Linked DNA regions of Homo sapiens. The protein of the gene in region 1 interacts with the protein of each later gene in a biochemical or structural test. Each region holds a gene or a part of one and is shown on either strand. Other genes may lie near its edges. The genes, in order: SLC22A12 and PDZK1.

Region 1 (10,314 bases):
GCCCAGGCTGGAGTGCAATGACGTGATCTCGGCTCACCACAACGTCTGCCTCCCAGGTCCAAGAAATTCTCCTGCCTCAGCCTCCTGAGTAGCTGGGATTACAGGCATGTGCCACCATGCCTGGCTAATTTTTTGTATTTTTAGTAGAGACAGGGTTTCACCATGTTGGCCAGGCTGGTCTCGAACTTCTGACCTCAGGTGATTCACCTGCCTCAGCCTCCCAAAGTGCTGGGATTACAGGCGTGAGCCACCGCGCCCGGCCAAGGATGTGACATTGCTGATTGACTCTGTCAGATACTTTTCACTCTGGCTTCCGGGGCATCCTGCTGTCCTGGTTTCCAGGCCTCACTGGTTTTGCCTTCACAGCTCTTTTGCTGGGTCATCCTCTTACTGACCTCTCAACATCAGAGACCAAAGGCTCCATCACAAACGTCATCTCTTTGCTATGAAAGCTTGCACCCTACGTGAGCTTATCCAGTCCTGTGACTTAAAATGCCTTTTATCCCCTAATTATTCCCAAGTCGCTCCATGATGCCACCACCTGGATGGCTAATAGACATGTCAATATCATCACACAAAAAAAGATTTATTTTCCCATCAAACTTGCTTCTCCCCGAGTGTTCTGCTTCTCTGTAAATGGCCCACCATCCACCCACCACCCACCTGATCATCAGTTTATCCTTTTTCTTCACCCTCGGCCCTGTATTTAGTCAAAGAAAAGCAATATGCCCCAAACCCAAGCATTTCTCTCCACCTGCCCTAATCCCCTAGCCCTGACCCTCATTGCTCACATGATCCACCCCAACAGCCTCCTGGGGGAACCCCTTCTTCTATATTTGTCCCATTTTCAGTCTGTTCTCCACACAGCAGCCAGGGAGATTTGTAAAAACATTAGTCAGATCATGCCACTTCTCTCCTCAAAACCCTATAAGGAAGTGTATGTTTTGGCCCCAAAACTGCTCTACTTTTCCCACTCACTTCTCCCCAACCATACTGGCCTCCTTCCTACTTCTTGAGCATAAAATCACATGCCCACCCCAGGGTCTTTGCATAATACTCTTCCCTCTGCCTGCAATATTCTTTCCCCAGTCAACTGTGTGTCTTGTCCCCTCATCTACTTGGGTCTCTTTCAATGCCACCTCCACAGAGAAGTCTTCCCTGACTGCCCCACCCAAAGTGGCAACATGATCCTTACTCTCTGCCCCTTATGCTATCTTGTTCTCTCCACAGCATGATTACTACTTGTCACTATATTCATTTATTTCTTGATGTGTTTCTCCTCTCTCATTGGCATGTCTTTCTACATATCAATGAGAACAGGGAATTATCTTGTTTGTTCACCGCTGCATCCCTGTGCCTAGAGCAGTGGCTGGTGCATTATCAACACTCAGCTCAACAAATGAATATTGATATTAAGAAGAAAGACACTCTTCTTTTTTTTTTTTTTTTTTTTTTGAGACAGAATCTTGCTCTGTCACCCAGGCTGGAGTGCAGTGGCGTGATCTTGGCTCCACTGCAACCTCCGCCTCATGGATTCAAGCAATTCTCCTGCCTCAGCAACCCTGGTAGCTGGGATTACAGGTGTGTGCCACCACCTCTGGCTAATTTTTGTATTTTTACTAGAGGCAGGGTTTCCCCATGTTGGCCAGGCTGGTCTCAAACTCCTGACCTCAAGTGATCCACTCGCCTCGGCCTCCCAAAGTGCTGGGATTCCGGCCGTGAGCCACCACGCCTGGCCCAAGAGAAACACTCGTAATATCCACTAAGAGATCAAGGAAATTATTCCACCTATGAAACAAGAAGTGGAAACTAGGAAACAAGAAGAAGCAGTTATAGGAAGAACCAAACACGGATTCTGAAATGGAAATTACACATTCTGAAATTAAAATGCTGGTGATTTGGGGCTGGGTGCAGTGGCTCATGCCTATAATCCCAGTACTTTGGGAGGCCGAGGTGGGCAGATCAGTTGAGGCCAGGAGTTCGAGACCAGCCTGGCCAACATGGTGAAACCCCATCGATATTAAAAATACAAAAATTAGCTGGGCATGGTGGCACATGCCTATAGACCCAGCTACTTAGGAGGCTGAGGCATGAGAATTGCTTGAACCTGGGCAGTGGAGACTGCAATGGGCCAAGATGGCGCCACTGCACTCCAGCCTGGGCAACAGAGCAAGACTCTGACTCAACTTAAAAAAAAAAAAGTGGAGAAAGCTGCATGAGAAGCATTTTTTTGGGAGAGCTCAGCTTTGGCCACACTAAGTGTGAGATGTTTATTAAGCACCTAAGATTAGGCAGTTGGATCAAAATCTAGCATTCCAAGAAGAGGTACAGGCTAAAGATGTGAATGGACCAGATGATAGAGAATATAGAGAAGACCAAGGAGTGAGCTCAGTGGCCTCCAATGTTAACAGTGTGTGGAGAAGAGGAAAACCCAACCAAGAAGATTGAGAACTAGTGAGTCCTGGAGGCCCAGGGAAGAAAGTATTCTCAGATGGAGATCAGAGACAGATGGCTCAAGTAAGATGAGGACTGAAAATGTCATTGAATCTAGCAGCATGGAGGTCATTGGTGACAGCAGAGTGATAGGGGCAAAACCTTGATGGGAATGAATCCAAAAACAAACAAAAAAATGGGAAGACAGAAACTGGAAATGAGTGTCAATAATACTTTCATAGAATTTTGTTGTAAATACAAGCAAAGGTGGGGCAGTCGCTTAAGAAGAAAGAGGGGCTCAAATGGAGGGGGAGTTTTTGGAAGGCTACAGAAAAAAATGGCATATTTGTACATTGGTGGAAATTATCCAGTAGCGAGGGAAAGACAAATGCCAAAGAGAGATGTGAGCAGGCAAAGGGGGGTGGGCTCTAGGCACACAGTGAGGGGTTGGCATGGATGAGAGAGAAACCAAACTGGGTGGAAGGAAGGCAGAATGTGGGGGCACCAAGGCAGGTGAGCTGGTGAGAGAATTAGACTGTTGGCTTCTGATGGCTTCTATTGTTTTAGTGAAATAAGAAAAAAGGTCATCTATTGAGAGAGAGGATAGAAGAGAAGGTGGTAGGTTTGAAGAGAGAAGATGGTATCAAATAACCCCTGGTTTGTGTGTTCAAATATAAGGGTAACAGAAATAAAACGTACAACTGACAGACCAAGACAGTAGAAGAATATAACAAGAAAACTTAATGGATTCAGTAGAAATTAGGAACAAGGAAACCAAGATTTAAAGGGAAAATGTGGTAAACAAGAAAACATACAGTAAGTCCAAACATGTCAATAATTACAATAAATGTGAACAGGTTAAAATCGCTAATTAAAAGGCAGAGGTATTTCTTTTGGATTTTACAAAAGGAAATGTAAAGCTTATTTGGCAGCTCAAGCTGATGAAGCTAAACATATCAGTTACTAAAACAAAGTCTGCACATATTTACACCAAACTGTAAACAGTAGTGTAACTCACTGGTTGATGAGTATATGAGGGATCTTTATTTTCATTTCAATATGTTCTGAATTTTTGAGGAAGTGTGTAAATTATTTCATAATTAGAAAATAAATGAAATTTTTAAAAAAATCATCCATGCACTTCAGCAAGTCTCCATGGAACCTTTATTTGTTGTCCAAATCAGTTCCAAAGAGCCTCTAAAGAAGGGTTCCAGACTACCAGGAGCTCACTGGAAATAAGACCAACTGGACCATAATAGAAGAATGCAGGTCATGGCTGGGTGCCGCAACTCACACCACTTTGGGAGGCCAAGGCAGGCAGATCACCTGAGGTCAGGAGTTTGAGAAGAATGCAGGACAGTGTAAAGATGAGATTCCACTGACAACTCTGAGCCCTAGTTGTAGGCAGGAATAAGTGAAGAGAGCCCGCTGGAGGAGGAGTATTTGGACTGTGCCCATTCCACACAGTATGTGGCCTAAGGGTGAGCCTGGAGACAGCATTCCAGGCTGGAGGTCCAACATAAGCAAGGGTGGGAACTGAGAAAGCATGTACAGGGCATGTGGTGGAAGCAGTGGATGACTCAAGGTGCAGAGCCCAGGGAGGCAAAGAAGTTGGCTTGGTAAGCCATGTGGAGGGGCAGCGGGAAGAGTCGGTGAAGCAAAAAGAAGCAGATGGGAGGGGCATTTATGCCTCAAATGGAGAGTTTTATGCCCAAAGCTCATAAGAGCAAACACCTGGGTTGCCATCACTGCTGCACTGCACATATACGCATGCACACATGTACACACATGCACTTGTGCAAACACATGTGCACACATACACAGACATGTGCACACACCCACATATACATACACTTCTTTTTTTTCTTTTCTTTTTTTTTTTTTTTTTGAGATAAGAGTCTTTCTCTGTCAACCAGGCTGGAGGGCAGTGGTGCAATCTCAGCTTGCTGCAACCTCTGCCTCCTGGGTTCAAGAGATTCTCCTGCCTCAGCCTCCCAAGTAGCTGGAATTACAGCTGTGCACCACGACCATGCTCAGCTAACTTTTGTATTTTTAGTAGAGATGGGTTTTTGCCATGTTGGCCAAGCTGGTCTTGAACTCTTGACCTCAAGTGATCCCCCCACCTCGGCCTCCCAAAGTGCTGGGATTACAGGCATGAGCCACCACGCCCGGCCATGCACACACACTTTTTAACTGCTTTGTGTTCTCTGGCCCTTTCGCCTACAGAATTAGCTATCGAGACCAAGGGGGTTCTCTTGGCCTCGGTCCAGCCTTTCCTGAACCCCACACCCTGCATCAGCACACACTGCTGTCCACTCACCTGCCCTAGTAAGTCACCACTAGCTGTTGTTGACTGGGAGCCCCTTGGCTTTTAAGCAGGATTTGACCCAAGGGCTCGCAGTGCGTGGTGGGTCCAGGGGCAGGAGTTGAGGCAGAAAGACAAGGGCAGGGACAGCTGTGGAGTGGGGGAGGTGGGAGAGAGAAATCCTTAGGAGGCAAAACTAGCCAGGCTTGGCCCCTGGTGGATTTGGGAGGCAGGGAGCAGGAGGCGTGAACCAAGACGCTGGGTTCCAGGCCAGACACTGTGACATGAGAGGCCATAGCTGAGGTGGGGCTCTGCAGGAGGCATAGATTTGGGGAGGGGACAGAGATCTCAGGGTGGCATTGGGCACACCGAACCTGGGGAGTCTGTGGGGTGTCTGTTGATGCTGGGAAGCTCCACCGAGGACTCAGGACAGGGTAACAGCAAAGCGGGCACAGGACGCCAACCACAGCAGGTGAGTGGAGGCAGGAGCCACGGGTGGGGCCAGGCCACACAGCCTGGGAGGCGCAGGGGCTGGGCAGCTGCCAGTGACCCAAGCCCACACAGAGACTTGCACAGCTGCCCCAGCCCCAAATTAGGGGGATCCCCTGGCCCACCTTCTCTTGGCTCAGCCACTCTGGGAGGTGGGCACACAGGGGCACCGAAGGGAGCAGGCAGCCCTGGCATCCCACAGCCGCCAGGAGAAAAACTTAGGCCTCCCCAAGACCTGGCACAGAGCAGGCCGGCCCTGGCCCCCAAGCAGAGGAGGCTGCACCTCCCTCGCGTCTGTGCCTGCCTCAACGCGGGTTAAACTTTGACCAAGGAAATGATTGCTAAACTCGATTCCATAAGTGTCACCGGTCACACTTTAATTCCAGTCTAAAATTAAAGTCTTCAGTCTCCACATTCCCTACTTTCCAAATTCAGCTTTCCCGGGAGGTCTGGAGCAGCTGCCTCTCTGGGGAGATGCTGGAGGTCTCGGAATCACCTCACGCGGCCTCAGGGCCCAGTTGGAGCCACCCCAAGTGACACCAGCAGGCAGATGACCAGAGAGCCTGAGCCTCCGGCCCCGAGTCTGTGAAGCCTAGCCGCTGGGCTGGAGAAGCCACTGTGGGCACCACCGTGGGGGAAACAGGCCCGTTGCCCTGGCCTCTTTGCCCTGGGCCAGCCTTTGTGAAGTGGGCCCCTCTTCTGGGCCCCTTGAGTAGGTTCCATGGCATTTTCTGAACTCCTGGACCTCGTGGGTGGCCTGGGCAGGTTCCAGGTTCTCCAGACGATGGCTCTGATGGTCTCCATCATGTGGCTGTGTACCCAGAGCATGCTGGAGAACTTCTCGGCCGCCGTGCCCAGCCACCGCTGCTGGGCACCCCTCCTGGACAACAGCACGGCTCAGGCCAGCATCCTAGGGAGCTTGAGTCCTGAGGCCCTCCTGGCTATTTCCATCCCGCCGGGCCCCAACCAGAGGCCCCACCAGTGCCGCCGCTTCCGCCAGCCACAGTGGCAGCTCTTGGACCCCAATGCCACGGCCACCAGCTGGAGCGAGGCCGACACGGAGCCGTGTGTGGATGGCTGGGTCTATGACCGCAGCATCTTCACCTCCACAATCGTGGCCAAGGTAGGGCCTCCCCCAGAGCCACTCGAGTCCCACCACCTTGGAGGTCAGTCATGGATCACGGTGGGTCAGACTCAAAGGTCCAGTCCTGGGAGGGACCCACCTCCCCAGGCCCCACTCACTCTCGAGCCTCTCAGCCCCTCGTCAGCCACACACAGGGAAGTGGGCGGCAGGGATCAGTCTACAAATGGGGCCAGCCCAGGCTCTTGGAGGTGCGGGGGGCACCTGGGCGGGCACCTCTAAATGCTGGCACCTGGACACTCACCGGCCTCACCCTGTCCTGGCCCTGCTGACCTGTCAGCCGTGACTCCAGGCAACTCAGCAGCAGGGGGACTCAGTGACAATTCACTGGATTCCCCGAGACCAAAGCACACAGAGTAAGGGATTACCCCAGGCTGCCTCCCAGATGGGGCGCCAGGCAAAGCCAGGCAAGCAGAGAGGGGCAGCTCATCCCAACAAGTGGGAAGAACCTCTTTATAAAGAACAGGAGGGAAGCAACCTCTGGGAGAGGGGTGAGGGTGTCAGCTTGGGTGGCTGCTTCCAAGTGGAGAGACAGGAGAGAGGGGCAGATGTGGCTAGAGACCCATTGGGCAATAGGGAGCCATGGAAGAGTTCAGGCAGAGGGTGGCAGGATATACTCCTCAAAAGGCCAAACTATGCCTGTGGGTGCCCTCACTGTTCCACAGGGTCTTGCTCTAAAACCCTAGAGGTCACCAGACCACCCACCGCACCCAGCTCCCTGGGGGCCCTCCCATGCGGTTCCTCTGCCTCTCTGCTGGGGCTCTCCCAACCTCCTGAGCTCAGCCTCCTCCTCTCCCATCAGTGGAACCTCGTGTGTGACTCTCATGCTCTGAAGCCCATGGCCCAGTCCATCTACCTGGCTGGGATTCTGGTGGGAGCTGCTGCGTGCGGCCCTGCCTCAGACAGGTGAGTACCCCCAGTCCAGGCAGGTCCCAGTTCCCCTCACAACCCCTGCTCTCCTAGGACCCTGGCCGACTGGCCCCAAACCAGCCTCACAAAACCAAGTCTAGAAAGCGCCCTACTTGCTGGGTGTGGGTCTCGGACCAGCCACCCTGCAGCCGTGCCAGGTAGGGAGGTCTGGAACCTTCTCTGAACCTCGAGTTCACCAACTTTACTCTGGGGGTTGTAGAGGATTTCTGCTCCCCAGCAAACATTCACTGCTAAAACTGGCTTGGCCATGCGCCTTCCTTCAGCAGCAACCTGAGTGCTCCTGGTGACTGGAGCCCATTCCCTTTGGCTCTGGCCTCGGGACTCTCCTTGTGCTCCGGAGGGTTCCGTAGGTGGAGAATGTAGGTTTCACCCAGGTGCCGCTTCAGTGTCCGCCTCAGCTCAGCGGGCAAGCATAGGGTGGGCTCTAGGTGTTCCAGAGCCCCGTGGCCTGTGCCGTGGCAAGCCACAGACCCTGCCTCTTCCTGGTTTGTGCCGCAGGTTTGGGCGCAGGCTGGTGCTAACCTGGAGCTACCTTCAGATGGCTGTGATGGGTACGGCAGCTGCCTTCGCCCCTGCCTTCCCCGTGTACTGCCTGTTCCGCTTCCTGTTGGCCTTTGCCGTGGCAGGCGTCATGATGAACACGGGCACTCTCCGTAGGTCTCTGACCTGGCGCCATGCAGGGGGGCTCCATGCAGGCTCCAGGGCTGAACCACTCGGTCTCCTTGCAGTGATGGAGTGGACGGCGGCACGGGCCCGACCCTTGGTGATGACCTTGAACTCTCTGGGCTTCAGCTTCGGCCATGGCCTGACAGCTGCAGTGGCCTACGGTGTGCGGGACTGGACACTGCTGCAGCTGGTGGTCTCGGTCCCCTTCTTCCTCTGCTTTTTGTACTCCTGGTGGGTGCTGTGCCCCACTCCCCTCCTCAGAGGAGATCCTGCCCACTCTCCACCCGGGGGAATGGGAGACTCTCCTTTCCCTGGGGGCTGGGGAGTGCTAGAGGCCAGGGGTGCATGGGCTGGAGGAAAGCCAGGAGCGTGGCAGAGTGTACCACCCACAAACCCAAGACACCCACTTCAACCAGGGCTTGGGTCCCCAGGGCGCCTCCCCTGCTCCTCTCAAGTGCTCCTTCTCCTACTTATTCTTCTCTTTTCCTCCCTCCTCCTCATCTCTTGGCCTATTCTCCTCTCCTGTCCCTGCCTGCCTTGGCATCTATGCTGCCAGGCCCATCTTCTGAGCCCCTCCTCTGTGTGTGCCAGGCATGGCAGCACTGAGCTAGGCTAGGGGAGCGAGTGGAAAGATACAACACATGCCCGCACACACAGCGCACAGCCGCAGTCTGCTTCATGGGCTGACAGAATCAATGCTTGTGTCTGTCTGCTGGAAGACAGGGACCAGGATCCACTCATCAGAGGGGAGTCCACAGTCCCCACAGAGGGCCGGCATGTGTGGGAGGTTAGGAAATGTCAGCACTGCCCTGAAACAAATCAGGCGTGGCCCTTGCCGAGCACCTGGCACATAGTAGGTGCTAAATAAATATTTGTTGAATGGATGAATTGTTAGGTAAGTAGAAATAGATAGATAGGTAGGTAGGTAGGTAGGTAGGTAGGTAGGTAGGTAGATAGATAGAGACAGATAAATAAATGGGTTGACAGATGTGTGGATTGGATGAGTGGATGGGTGAGTTGGTGGATAGATGGATTGGATTGTATAGATGAATTGAATGGATGGTTGAATGGATGGATAGATGGATGGATGGTTGGAATAGATGGATGGACGGATGGATGGATGGATGGATGGATGGATGGATGGATGGATGGACGGACAGACGGACGGACGGTTGGATGGATGGATGGATGGATGGATGAATGGATAGTTGGAATAAATGGATGGATGGATGAATGGATGGATGGATGGGTGGATGGACGGACGGATGGATGGACAGATGGAATGGATGGATGGATGGTTGGAATGGATGGATGGATGGAATGGATGGATGGATGGAATGGATGGATGGATTGTTGAATGGATGGTTGGATGGATGGATGGATGGATGGTTGGAATAGATGGATGGATGGATGGGTGGATGGATGGATGGATGGATGGATGGATGGATGGTTGGAATAGATGGATGGATGGATGGGTGGATGGATGGATGGATGGATGGATGGATAGATGGATAGATGGAAAGGATGGATGGATGGATGGATGGATGGATGGATGGATGGATGGTTGAATGGATGGTTGAATGGATGGTTGGATGGATGGATGGATGGATGGATGGACGGATGGATGGATGTTTGGAATAGATGGATGGATGGATGGATGGATGGATGGATGGATGGATGGAATGGATGGATGGATGGATGGATGGTTGAATGGATGGTTGGATGGATGGATGGATGGATGGATGGATGGATGGATGGATGGTTGAATGGATGGTTGAATGGATGGATGGATGGATGGATGGATGGATGGATGGATGGATGGACGGACGGATGGATGGATGGATGTTTGGAATAGATGGATGGATGGATGATGGATGGATGGAATGGATGGATGTTTGGAATAGATGGATGGATGGATGGAATGGATGGATGGATGGTTGGAATGAATGGATGGATGGATGGTTGGAATGGATGGATGGATGGATGGTTGGAATGGATGGATGGATGGAATGGAAGGAGGGATGGATGGATGGATGGTTGAATGGATGGATAGATGGATGGATGGTTGAATGGGTGGAATGAAAGGATGGATGGTTGTAATAGATGGATGGATGGATGGTTGGAATAGATGGATGGATGGATGGATGGTTGGAATAGACGGATGGATGGATGGTTGGAATAGATGGATGGATGGATGGTTGGAATGGATGAATGGATGGATGGATAGATGATTGGAATAGATGGATGGATGGACGGTTGAATGGATGGATGGATGGATGGATGGATAGTTGAATGGATGGAATGGATGGATGGATGGTTGGAATAGATGAATGGATAGATGGTTGGAAAA
Region 2 (10,171 bases), on another chromosome or scaffold:
ATGATTGCTGCTAATGATATTCTAGAAATCCATAGGCCTTCATTTCTTCTGTGTCTATCCACCAGAGGGGTCTGATCTCTAGATTTTTTCAGGAGGCAGAAGATGAGGTGGGGTTAAAGAAGTAGGAAAGAGTATCCTTAAATACAAAGATCCTTCCTAATTAGGCCCTGTGTTCCAGAGTCCCAGGCATCCTTGTCATGGAGCAATGACAGAGTCTTGCGAAAGAGACATACCCCAGCTCTGAATTAGGGGACAGAGTAACACCAGGATGTGGACTAGACAGAACAAGGCCTGGAGGTGGACCAGAGCCCAGCTCCCTTGGCTCCTAGATGAATCATCTTTCTGCAAGATGGCAAAGGAAACAAATAGTTTTAGGTTCCCATGTAAGACCAGGCTTTTGAGGTTTAGGTCTGCTTTCCCCATTGGTGCAGCTGGGGGCGTTAAATATTTAATCAGTTTGGCCTGGGTACATGCAGATCGATGGCCATAGCATTAATCCATTAATGGCTGTGTGGTGGGGAGTACACAGTGGCAGAAGGCAGTTGGGGGCTTGCAGCAGTAGCTGTTTCCCCACCAGTATGGTAGCATTTCACTATTGGTATAAAGTGGCTCTAATTTTCTGGCTTCAACCAGACAAAAAAGAAACTGACCTTGAATGCTTGAGCCTTCAAAGCCATAGATGCAGATCTGAGCGATTACCATCTGGCTGTTTGAAAACTTCAAACAAAAAAGTCAACTTGAGATTCTGCCAAGAAACAGTGATTTGTGTTTCTTTGTATGTCAGGCTCACAGGTCTCCAGTGAGACATAGGAAAACCTTTGCCTCTTCCCCTCTCTCCAAACACAGGGCTGGTTCTCCTAGTGAGGAGGTTTCACTTTCTATCCTTGGCCTACAAACAAAGAGATTAAGAGTTTGTGGTTGACACTGCAGGGCGTGAGATTGTTGAGTCTTGGGTGTGAGTGCCTTAGAAATGAGCATTCATATGCTGATCACAAACAGCCTCATCTCTTGATGAAAACATAGTATCTGTTGGCCTTATTCTGATTATAAGGACATATTTTAAATTTTGTAGGATTTGAATGAGGTTCTCCAATAATTACTCCCAACTTTAAGAGGGCTTTGCATGTTTTGTTTGACATTGTTTTATTTTCTTCACAGCAAATATCATTATCTGAAATGATCCTATTCATTTATGTAATTACTGTCTGATCCTCCCAGTAAAGTACATTGAGACCTCGTCTTTCTTTTCTGATTTTTTTTCTTTTGGGGTCTTTTGGCCCTATGAAATGGAAAGGTGTAGGGATCTACAGGTGAGCTTGGACATAGATGTGAACTCAAGCTGAAACTGAACTGATGCTCGCAGGTTGGGATCAGCAGAAAGAGGAGTGAAAGGTGAGGGAGCTGGAATGGGCCACAAACAGGTGCCTGGATGTGACTCAACTCTGGTGATGCCATATTTTCTCCTTTCATCCCAGAGTGGTGTTTTCCTGGCAGCTGGTCATGGCTTTTGATAAGGCAGAGCTGCCTAGCTCTCCCAAGGTGCTGGTGTTGACCACTGGTGAGTGGCTTTGCTGTTTTCTTGCCTCAATGCTCGATGGGGAGTCTATTTGTTTGCTTCTTTCTTCGCTACTTAGTCACTCGTGCCACTGGTGGCGTGGGGCTTCAGACTTTGCGGAGACTGCAGGAGAGGCCTGGTATTGGGCAGCTGGGGGCTCTCTGTCTGATTTGTACTGTACGTCTCTGTGGGCATGAAGGTCAGGGATGGCTATCTTCAATCACCATGCCATGGCTTCTAGGGTGCCTGGAGCACTTTGTGGCCTATTCTTCACCCTCCCCCATATCCTGTGTGGTCATCCGTTCTTGTCCCTCCAGGAGGGAAGGGATAGGTGGTTTATTCTGATTTGTAGGTAGGGAACTGTGATGAGAGGAACTTGAGGGCTTGCCTTGCAGGTGGTGTGAAGAGCAGACTCCAGTGCTCTGTTGTGAGCCTTCTGCCTTCTGTATCAGCCTCTTGCTGTTCTGGCCCCTGTTCTTATTCTCCTATAAAAGAAAAAGCTTTCAGCCAGCAGGTGTCGGGGCACTGGCAGAAGTCTTACCCTTAATAATAACTGTGTGCCGGAGCCCTAGCTGTCGGTTTTACACTTGTCCTGTCTTCCTCCTATGGCTCAGGACCTTGCCCCTGCAATGGGGCAACAGGAGGGGCAGGATGAATGGAAATAGAAGCTGCTTCAGGCCAGGCATGGGGGCTCATTCTGTAATTCCAGCACTTTGGGAGCCTGAAGCATGAAGATCACTTGAGCCCAGGAGTTTGAGACCAGCCTGGGCAACAAAGCAAGACACTGTCTCTAAAAAAATTAGTTAGCAGGGCATAGTGATATGTGCCTGTAGCTCCAGCTATTCAGGAGGCTGAGGTGGGAGGATCGCCTAAGCCCAGGAATTCGAGGCTGCAGTGAGCTGCGATTGCGCCACTGCACTGCAGCCTGGGTGACAAAGCGTCTGGGAGGGAGAGCCCCAACCTAGCCACTGGAATCCCTTTTCTATCGAGCATCTCTTTTCTGCTGTGGCTAGAGACTTCAGGGGCCAGAACAGCCTTTTCTAGTGCATCTCCAACATATTGGACCAGCTCTAAGGCCTGGTGTCCTTTTTTTTTGAGGCAGAGTCTCACTCTATTGCCCAGGCTGGAGTGCAGCAGTGTGATCTCGGCTCACTGCAATCTCCACCTCCCAGGTTAAAGCAATTATCCTGCCTCAGCCTCCCGAATAGCTGGGACAACAGGTGGCTGCCACCACGCCTGGCTAATTTTTGTAATTTTAGTAGAGCTGGGGTTTCACCATATTGGCCAGGCTGGTCTCAAACTCCTGACCTTGTGATCTGCCCGCCTCGGCCTCCCAAAGTGCTGGGAATACAGGGGTGAGCCACTGTGCCTGCCTTTTTTAATGGTTTAAGCTCTTCCTTGTCCTGTCCTACCTCACCAAGCTTCTACTAATCCTTCAGTTCTTGGAAGTGTCATTCCTTCAGGAAATGTTCTTTGTTCTTCCCATCCCGCTCCCTATTCCCAAGACCCTTTGTTATTTTCCCCCTTATCACTGCATTCTTCCCCAGCATGACACTCACCACGTGTGGTTATAGGAATGTAATAATGTTCCCCAATAGAAGAGGCAAGGTATGGGTCCATCTTGTCTACAGATTTAACCTCGATTCCTTGAACTTGAAAAGCTCTTCAAATGTTTGAATGAGAGTGGGCTTGTCATAAATTTTTTGGGTCATGTATTTGGACTTAATTTCTTTAGGTCAGAGGACAAAGAGGAGTTTGGTTGGAGATACTGAAATGGAAGCATCTGTGTCCAGTACTCAGTAAAAAATACGTGGGTCTGAAACTCTAGTAAAAAGGTTGTCCTTGGGGAAACAGATTTGGAAATCATTAGCAAGTTCTGGAAGGTGTCCTCCTGTGCCCCCAGCATTACTACCCAAGCAGTCTAGATTTGGTGATTGGAAGAACAGAATTATAGGAGATGGAGGATGGGGTTCTCACTCCAATTAGATTCTCTTTTCCATGGTTTTATTAATTTATTTTTTTCATCACAGAAATGACCTCCACCTTCAACCCCCGAGAATGTAAACTGTCCAAGCAAGAAGGGCAAAACTATGGCTTCTTCCTGCGAATTGAGAAGGACACCGAGGGCCACCTGGTCCGGGTGGTTGAGAAGTGTAGCCCAGCAGAGAAGGCTGGCCTTCAAGATGGAGACAGAGTTCTTAGGATCAATGGTGTCTTTGTGGACAAAGAAGAACATATGCAGGTGAATGAGACATTTGGGGCTTTTCTTCCAGGATCTCTTCAGCCCCCACATCTTCTCTGCTGATTATAATTTTGGGGGTTGGTAGAGTTTGGTTCTTTCCTGGCTGCCACTGGCAAGGCAGGACACCTTTATTGCTGTACCTTGTGTTGGCCAATCAAGTCCCCTATGAGGAACCAAGAACTGTACACATTACTCTTGGATTTGAATAGCGTTAGGTCTAACATGAATTGCATGTTCACTATATACCAAAAATGGTGCTAGGTATTTTTTTTTTTTTTTTTTTTTTTGAGATGGAGTTTCGCTCTTTCACCCAGGCTAGAGTGCAGTGGTGCGATCTCGGTTCACTGCAAGCTCTACCTCCCGGGTTCATGCCATTCTCCTGCCTCAGCCTCCCAAGTAGCTGGGACTATAGGCACCCGCCACCACACCCAGCTTTTTTTTTTTTTTTGTATTTTTAGTAGAGATGGGGTTTCACCGTGTTAGCCAGGATGGTCTCGATCTCCTGACCTCGTGATCCGCCCGCTTCGGCCTCCCAAAGTGCAGTGATTACAGGCATGAGCCACCACGCTCGGCCAGCAATTTTATATTCATTATCTTGTTAAGTCCTCATCATGACCTCATAAGGTATATGTTACAATTTCACAGATTAGGAAGCTAAGTACAGATATCTTAGCTTGCTAACATGTTCCTGCTGAGGATATATGGGAGAGTCTGGCCTTACCTTATTCTGCCTGACTCCAAAAGCATGGTCTTTTCCTTACACTGTGCTGTCCCCATGCACACGGGAGGAATGGTTACAATCTAGGGCAGCGCTCCTCTCTAGAAAGGACCAGTCTTGTAAGAACCCTCTGGGCTGGGGTTGAACCACACTCTATATTCCAGCAGTGCCAGAAGCTCAGCCTAATCTGCACCTGGATCTCGGGAGGGCAGGGATGGAGGTGGCTGAGGAACTACCTGCTTCTACTTGGGTGTCAAGGGTCAACTAGCAGCATCTCCAGGGCCAGATATTGAGCCAGATGGTCAGCATTTCCCTCTGGCAGTTGGCAGAGGGTTATTAAAGTTACCTTTTTCTTCTTCCCTCCTAGGTTGTGGATCTGGTCAGAAAGAGTGGGAATTCAGTGACTTTACTAGTTCTGGATGGGGATTCCTATGAGAAAGCAGTGAAAACACGGGTGGACTTGAAAGAGTTGGGTCAAAGTCAGAAGGAGCAAGGTTTGAGTGATAATATACTTTCCCCTGTGATGAATGGAGGTGTGCAAACTTGGACCCAGCCCCGGCTCTGCTATCTCGTGAAGGAAGGAGGCAGCTATGGCTTCTCTCTGAAAACTGTCCAAGGTGAGAATTTTTTGGGGAGCAGGGGGAGGCAGGGGCAGGGCACAGACAACAGGCTTCCAGAACAAAGATGCTACTGGTTAATGACTTTTCTTCTTTGACTGACTTTTCAGTTGCTATAGATAGCTTGCAACAGCTTGCCTCCCTCCGTCTCTCACTCCCTCCCTGCCCTTTCCCTTGCCTTGCACAGTTGTGCAATGGGGGAGGGACACTGGACAGCAGTGGGGGTGGGGGGCACTGGGTACTCCTGTCCCTGAGTGTTTGTCAGGCTGGCACTTGAGGACTCTTTGAGGTCAGGGGGCCAGAGGGTTGATGCTTCTAGCCCTCTTAGGGTGAAAATGAAGGGCAGAATAAGGAATAAAAGGCAAGAAAAATGAGATTCTTCATAATAGCTATTTTTGAGTAAGATTGGTATCTTTTTTTTATCTGAGTGCCCAGATAGTCATTCATTTATTCAACAAATTCTTGAGCACCTGCTGATGTGCCAGGCACTGTTACCTTTGCTGAGAATACCGCAAAAATTTCCACCCTCCTGTAACATTTTGATAGTACCCTCAGCTGCGGCTCAGCCCCACCTGTTCTGAGGCGCATCTTTGAGCTCTGGCTAAGAGGTACATAGTGATTTGAGAAACCCTGACCATCAGGAAGCACCAGAAGTTCTATTTCTAGAATTTCAGAGGTGCAGACTAACCTGTGTTCAGTTGACCGTGGCTCTGGGGTATTGGTTGGAACCAGAGGAGCTGTGTTAGCTGGTCAATTCCTTCTTGAACACTGCCTCTGCCTATGTTCTTTCTGGGGCTGGAGAAGCACTGGTGGTAGGTCATGATTTGGCAAGTGATACAGCAGCAGACCAGTGGTAAATTTAAAATAGTTTCTAAGGCTTATTTAACCTGTACCAAGAGATGTAAACTCACGATAAGGGGTATTTCTCAGGTCTGTCAGTTATTAAACACAGTGGTGTGTATAGTCAAAGGAAGCTTGGCACGTCTTAGAAGCCTATTATCAGTAAAGTGGTAAAAAAAAGAAAATCATAATTCAGATTCTACTCATCTGGCTCATGTGCTAATGCACATGGTGAATGGTTTAGGTTAGCTTTATGAGGAAAATGGTCTCTTCATGACAAATATATAACAAGGTAGCAGGAGAAATGCTGAGTGTTTAAGGAAGCAGAGTTTAAGTTATTGTCATTCCTTACAAGTGATTTATGTAGTCATTAGCAAGCGATCCCTTGCCTAGGTTGACATACAAGAGTCCCCCCTTATCCTGTTTGGCTTTCCATAGTTTCAGTTACCTTACCTGCAGGCAACTGTGGTCTGAAAATATTAAATGGAAAATTCCATACATAATTTTTGCATTGTGAACCATTATGAGTAGTGTAATGAAATCTTGTGCTGTCCTGCCCCGTCTTGGACATGAATCCTCTGTTTGTCTAGCATCTCCACGTGGCATGTGCTTACCTGCCTGTTAGTCTTACTACTTACTACTCAGTTACCAGGTCAACTGTCACGGTATTAAAGTACTGTGTTCAAATAATCCTTATTTTGCTTAATAATGGCCCAGCACAGAAAGAAAAATATCACATATTCTCATATGTGGGAGCTAAAAAAGGTGAATCTCATGGAGGTAGAGAGTAGAATGAGAGATACCAGCAGCTGGGAAGGGTATGTGTGTGGGGTAGGGTGGGGATGAAGAGAGCTAGGTTAATGGGTACAAACCCACAGAGAGAAGGAATAAGTTCTAATGTTTGATAGCACAGTGGGGTGACTGTAGTTAACAACAATGTATTGTACATTTCAAAATAGCTGTAAGAAGATTTGAAATATTCTCAACACAAAGAAATGATAAATGTTCAAGGATGGATGTCCTAAATATTACACCCTGATTTGTTCATTATATGCTCTTGGTATCAAAATATGACACACACCCTATAAATATGTACAAATGTTATGTATCAATAAAAAATAATAGCTCAGGCCGGGCGCAGTGGCTCACGCCTGTAATCCCAGCACTTTGGGAGGCCGAGGCGGGCAGATCATGAGGTCAGGAGATCGAGACCATCCTGGCTAACACGGTGAAACCCTGTCTCTACTAAAAATACAAAAAATTAGCCGGGTGTGGTGGTGGGCGCCTGTAGTCCCAGCTACTCAGGAGGCTGAGGCAGGAGAATGGTGTGAACCCGGGAGGCGGAGGTTGCAGTGAGCTCAGATTGCGCCACTGCACTCCAGGCTGGGCGATAAAGCAAGACTCCGTCTCAAAAAAAAAAAAAAAAAAAGCCAAAAATGCAAGGATAGTGATGCTGGCAGTTCAGATATGACAAAGAGAAGCTGTAAAGTGGCCGGGCACAGTGGCTCATATCTGTAATCCTAGCGCTTTGAGAGTGCGAGGCGAGTGGATTACCTGAGGTCAGGAGTTCGAGACAAGCCTGGCCAACATGGCGAAACCCCATCTCTACTAAAAATACAAAAATTAGCCAGGCGCGGTGGCAGGCGCCTGTAGTCCCAGCTACTCGAGAGGCTGAGGCAGGAGAATCGCTTGAACCGGGGAGGCAGAGGTTGCTGTGAGCCAAGATTGCGGCCCTGCGTTCCAGCCTAGGTGACAGAGCGAGACTCCATCTGTTAAAAAAAAAAAAAAAAAGGCTGTAAAGTGCTTCTATTAAGTGAAAAGTTCTCGATTTAATAAGGAAAGAAAAAATACTGTATGCTGAGGTTGCTAAGATTAGCTCAGTTATTGTTAATCTCTTACTGTGCCTAATTTATAAGTTAAACTCTATTGTAGGTATGTAAGCACAGGAAAAAACATATAGGGTTCGGTATACTATCTTAAAGTTTCAGGCCTCCACTGGGGGTCTTGGAATGTATCCCCCATGGTTAAGGGGGAACTGCTCTATTAATATCTTTGAAGAATTGACAGCATTTCTATAAGTAGCACCTAAATCTCACCACCTAAATGCATTCGGGTTCTTCCCTCCCTCCTGTGCCTGTCCTTGTTAGCCTACATTGGTGAGATGACTCCACAGCATACGATGGCTAATATAATAGTACAAACTGAAGAGGAGAGAATGGTAAAGATGCTTTCTGATTCTACAAATGCAAAGAAAGGGCGTATGACACAATAATGCAGTGTGGGCATGTTTTAGCGCTTTCTGGTTCAAGGGGCCAAGGCCACCCAAGATTCCATCTTTGCATTTAGCTGACCTCAGAAATTCTATTCAAATCAACAAATACCCACTGAGTAAAGGCTGTGTCAAGTTCAGTGCCAGGACCTATAACTGTGATTTTAGATCAGAAGCCAAAGGCCGAGTTAGCTCTAAAATCGGAAGTTTGTTTCACATTATTGGGAGAAAAGTCTTTACCATTGGATTTCGAGTTTTTCTTTGCAATGGAGTGTTCTGTGAAAGGGTGGTGTATGCAAAGCAGTCCCTCAAAGGCCAAAGGAGCTGAGAAACCAAAGGACAAGGCAGGCAAATCCAGTTTGTTGGTACATTGGAATTTATCAGGGGAACTTACGAACAGAAGCATGGTCTTGGACAGCCACAAAACATGTAGATCTCTGTGTTACTCCCCAGACCCAAGGCTGATATACCATAGGGAAAGGGTATATGTGCTCCAGCAAGACAATCGAAGGCAGCCCTCCGCAATAGCCAAGAATGCTATAGTGCATCATAGCCTATAATTTGCGTGATAACATTAAGGTTGACATGTTCTTAGACTAGGGACAGTAAATGAAGTAGAAATCGGGAGGCAATCACAGGACTGGGGCTAATCAGAAGTCAACATCACAGATTACCATCCAAGAGGGAGTCACTTGTGTCTCCACATGGAGTTTACCCCTACTCTCTTCCAGGTAAAAAGGGGGTGTACATGACTGATATTACACCTCAAGGTGTGGCTATGAGAGCTGGAGTTCTGGCTGATGATCACTTGATTGAAGTGAATGGAGAGAATGTAGAGGATGCCAGCCATGAGGAAGTGGTTGAAAAGGTATGCCCCAAAGGGTACTTTTCTTACCCTATCTTCCACTCTATTCTCATTGGAGGTGACAGGAAGACAGGGGTGGTAGGGGACAGCATGAGTTTATGATGGAAAAAATATCCAGTTGAGTTGCCCCTTCATATTAAGGGTGAACAGACTCACACTAGTGGTATAAGCAGTGTTAATATAGGGTTTTGGAATAAAGCCTTCCCTAGTTTCACATGAGGTCTACAAAATTATTAACTTTACCTTTTGGATCTTGTTTGTATCTGATTGGGAGCCCCCTCTGAACTGTTTGATTGAGACAGGGTCTCACTCTGTTACCCAGGCTGGAGTGTAGTGGCACAATCTCGGCTCATTGCAGTCTCGGCCTCCTGGGCTCAGATGATTCTTCTACCTCAGCTTCCTGAGTAGCTGGGACTACAGGTGTGCACCACCGCACCTGGCTAATTTTTATGTGTGTGTGTGTGTGTGTGTGTGTGTGTGTGTGTGTGTGTGTTTTGTAGAGATAGGGTCTCACTATGTTGGCCAGGCTGGTCTTGAACTCCTGAGCTCAAGTGATCTGCCCGCCTTGGCCTCCCAAAGTGCTGGGATTATGGGCGTGTGCCACTGCGCCCTCTGAATTTACAATAAGTTCACTGTTGAGCCGTTAATACTGAAATGCTTTAATAGGAAGTGGGAGATAACCGAGATTTTCCTTTGAGGTCATATGGAACCTTAAAAATTGACCAACCTTCTCTTTGTAGAATGATTTTTTGACGTGGACCCTTACTTTCTTTTCTTTTCCAAACTCCCTTTCTAGCTTTTATCTAGGTACCTTTATGGGTTTTCTGAATTCCAGCTCCTACTTGGGCTCAGTTAGCACCTATGTGGGTAGGTCATACTTAAATAAGGGAAAACAACTATAGAAGTGGAGATAGGGGCCGGGCGCGGTGGCTCACGCCTGTAATCCCAGCACTTTGGGAGGCCGAGGCGGGTGGATCACGAGGTCAGGAGATCGAGACCATCCTGGCTAACAAGGTGAAACACCGTCTCCACTAAAAATAAAAAAAAAAAAATTTAGCCAGGTGC

Evidence for each region.
Region 2: the proteins of SLC22A12 (region 1) and PDZK1 form a complex in vitro, tested with the Homo sapiens proteins (2 studies listed by BioGRID and IntAct, with this or other methods).

The regions. Positions count from the first base shown.
Region 1 is NC_000011.10:64,585,609-64,595,922, forward strand, and holds the start of SLC22A12 (solute carrier family 22 member 12), read left to right. Parts: upstream 1-5,611; 5' UTR 5,612-5,948; coding exon 5,949-6,350; intron 6,351-7,170; coding exon 7,171-7,274; intron 7,275-7,796; coding exon 7,797-7,951; coding exon of another isoform or gene 7,952-8,026; coding exon 8,027-8,195; intron 8,196-10,314. UniProt on the Homo sapiens protein: Electroneutral antiporter that translocates urate across the apical membrane of proximal tubular cells in exchange for monovalent organic or inorganic anions. Involved in renal reabsorption of urate and helps maintaining blood levels of uric acid.
Region 2 is NC_000001.11:145,681,438-145,691,608, reverse strand, and holds part of PDZK1 (Na(+)/H(+) exchange regulatory cofactor NHE-RF3), read left to right. Parts: exon of another isoform or gene 1-1,500; coding exon of another isoform or gene 1,501-1,558; intron 1,559-3,585; coding exon of another isoform or gene 3,586-3,587; coding exon 3,588-3,797; intron 3,798-4,882; coding exon 4,883-5,132; intron 5,133-8,972; coding exon 8,973-9,109; intron 9,110-10,171. UniProt on the Homo sapiens protein: A scaffold protein that connects plasma membrane proteins and regulatory components, regulating their surface expression in epithelial cells apical domains.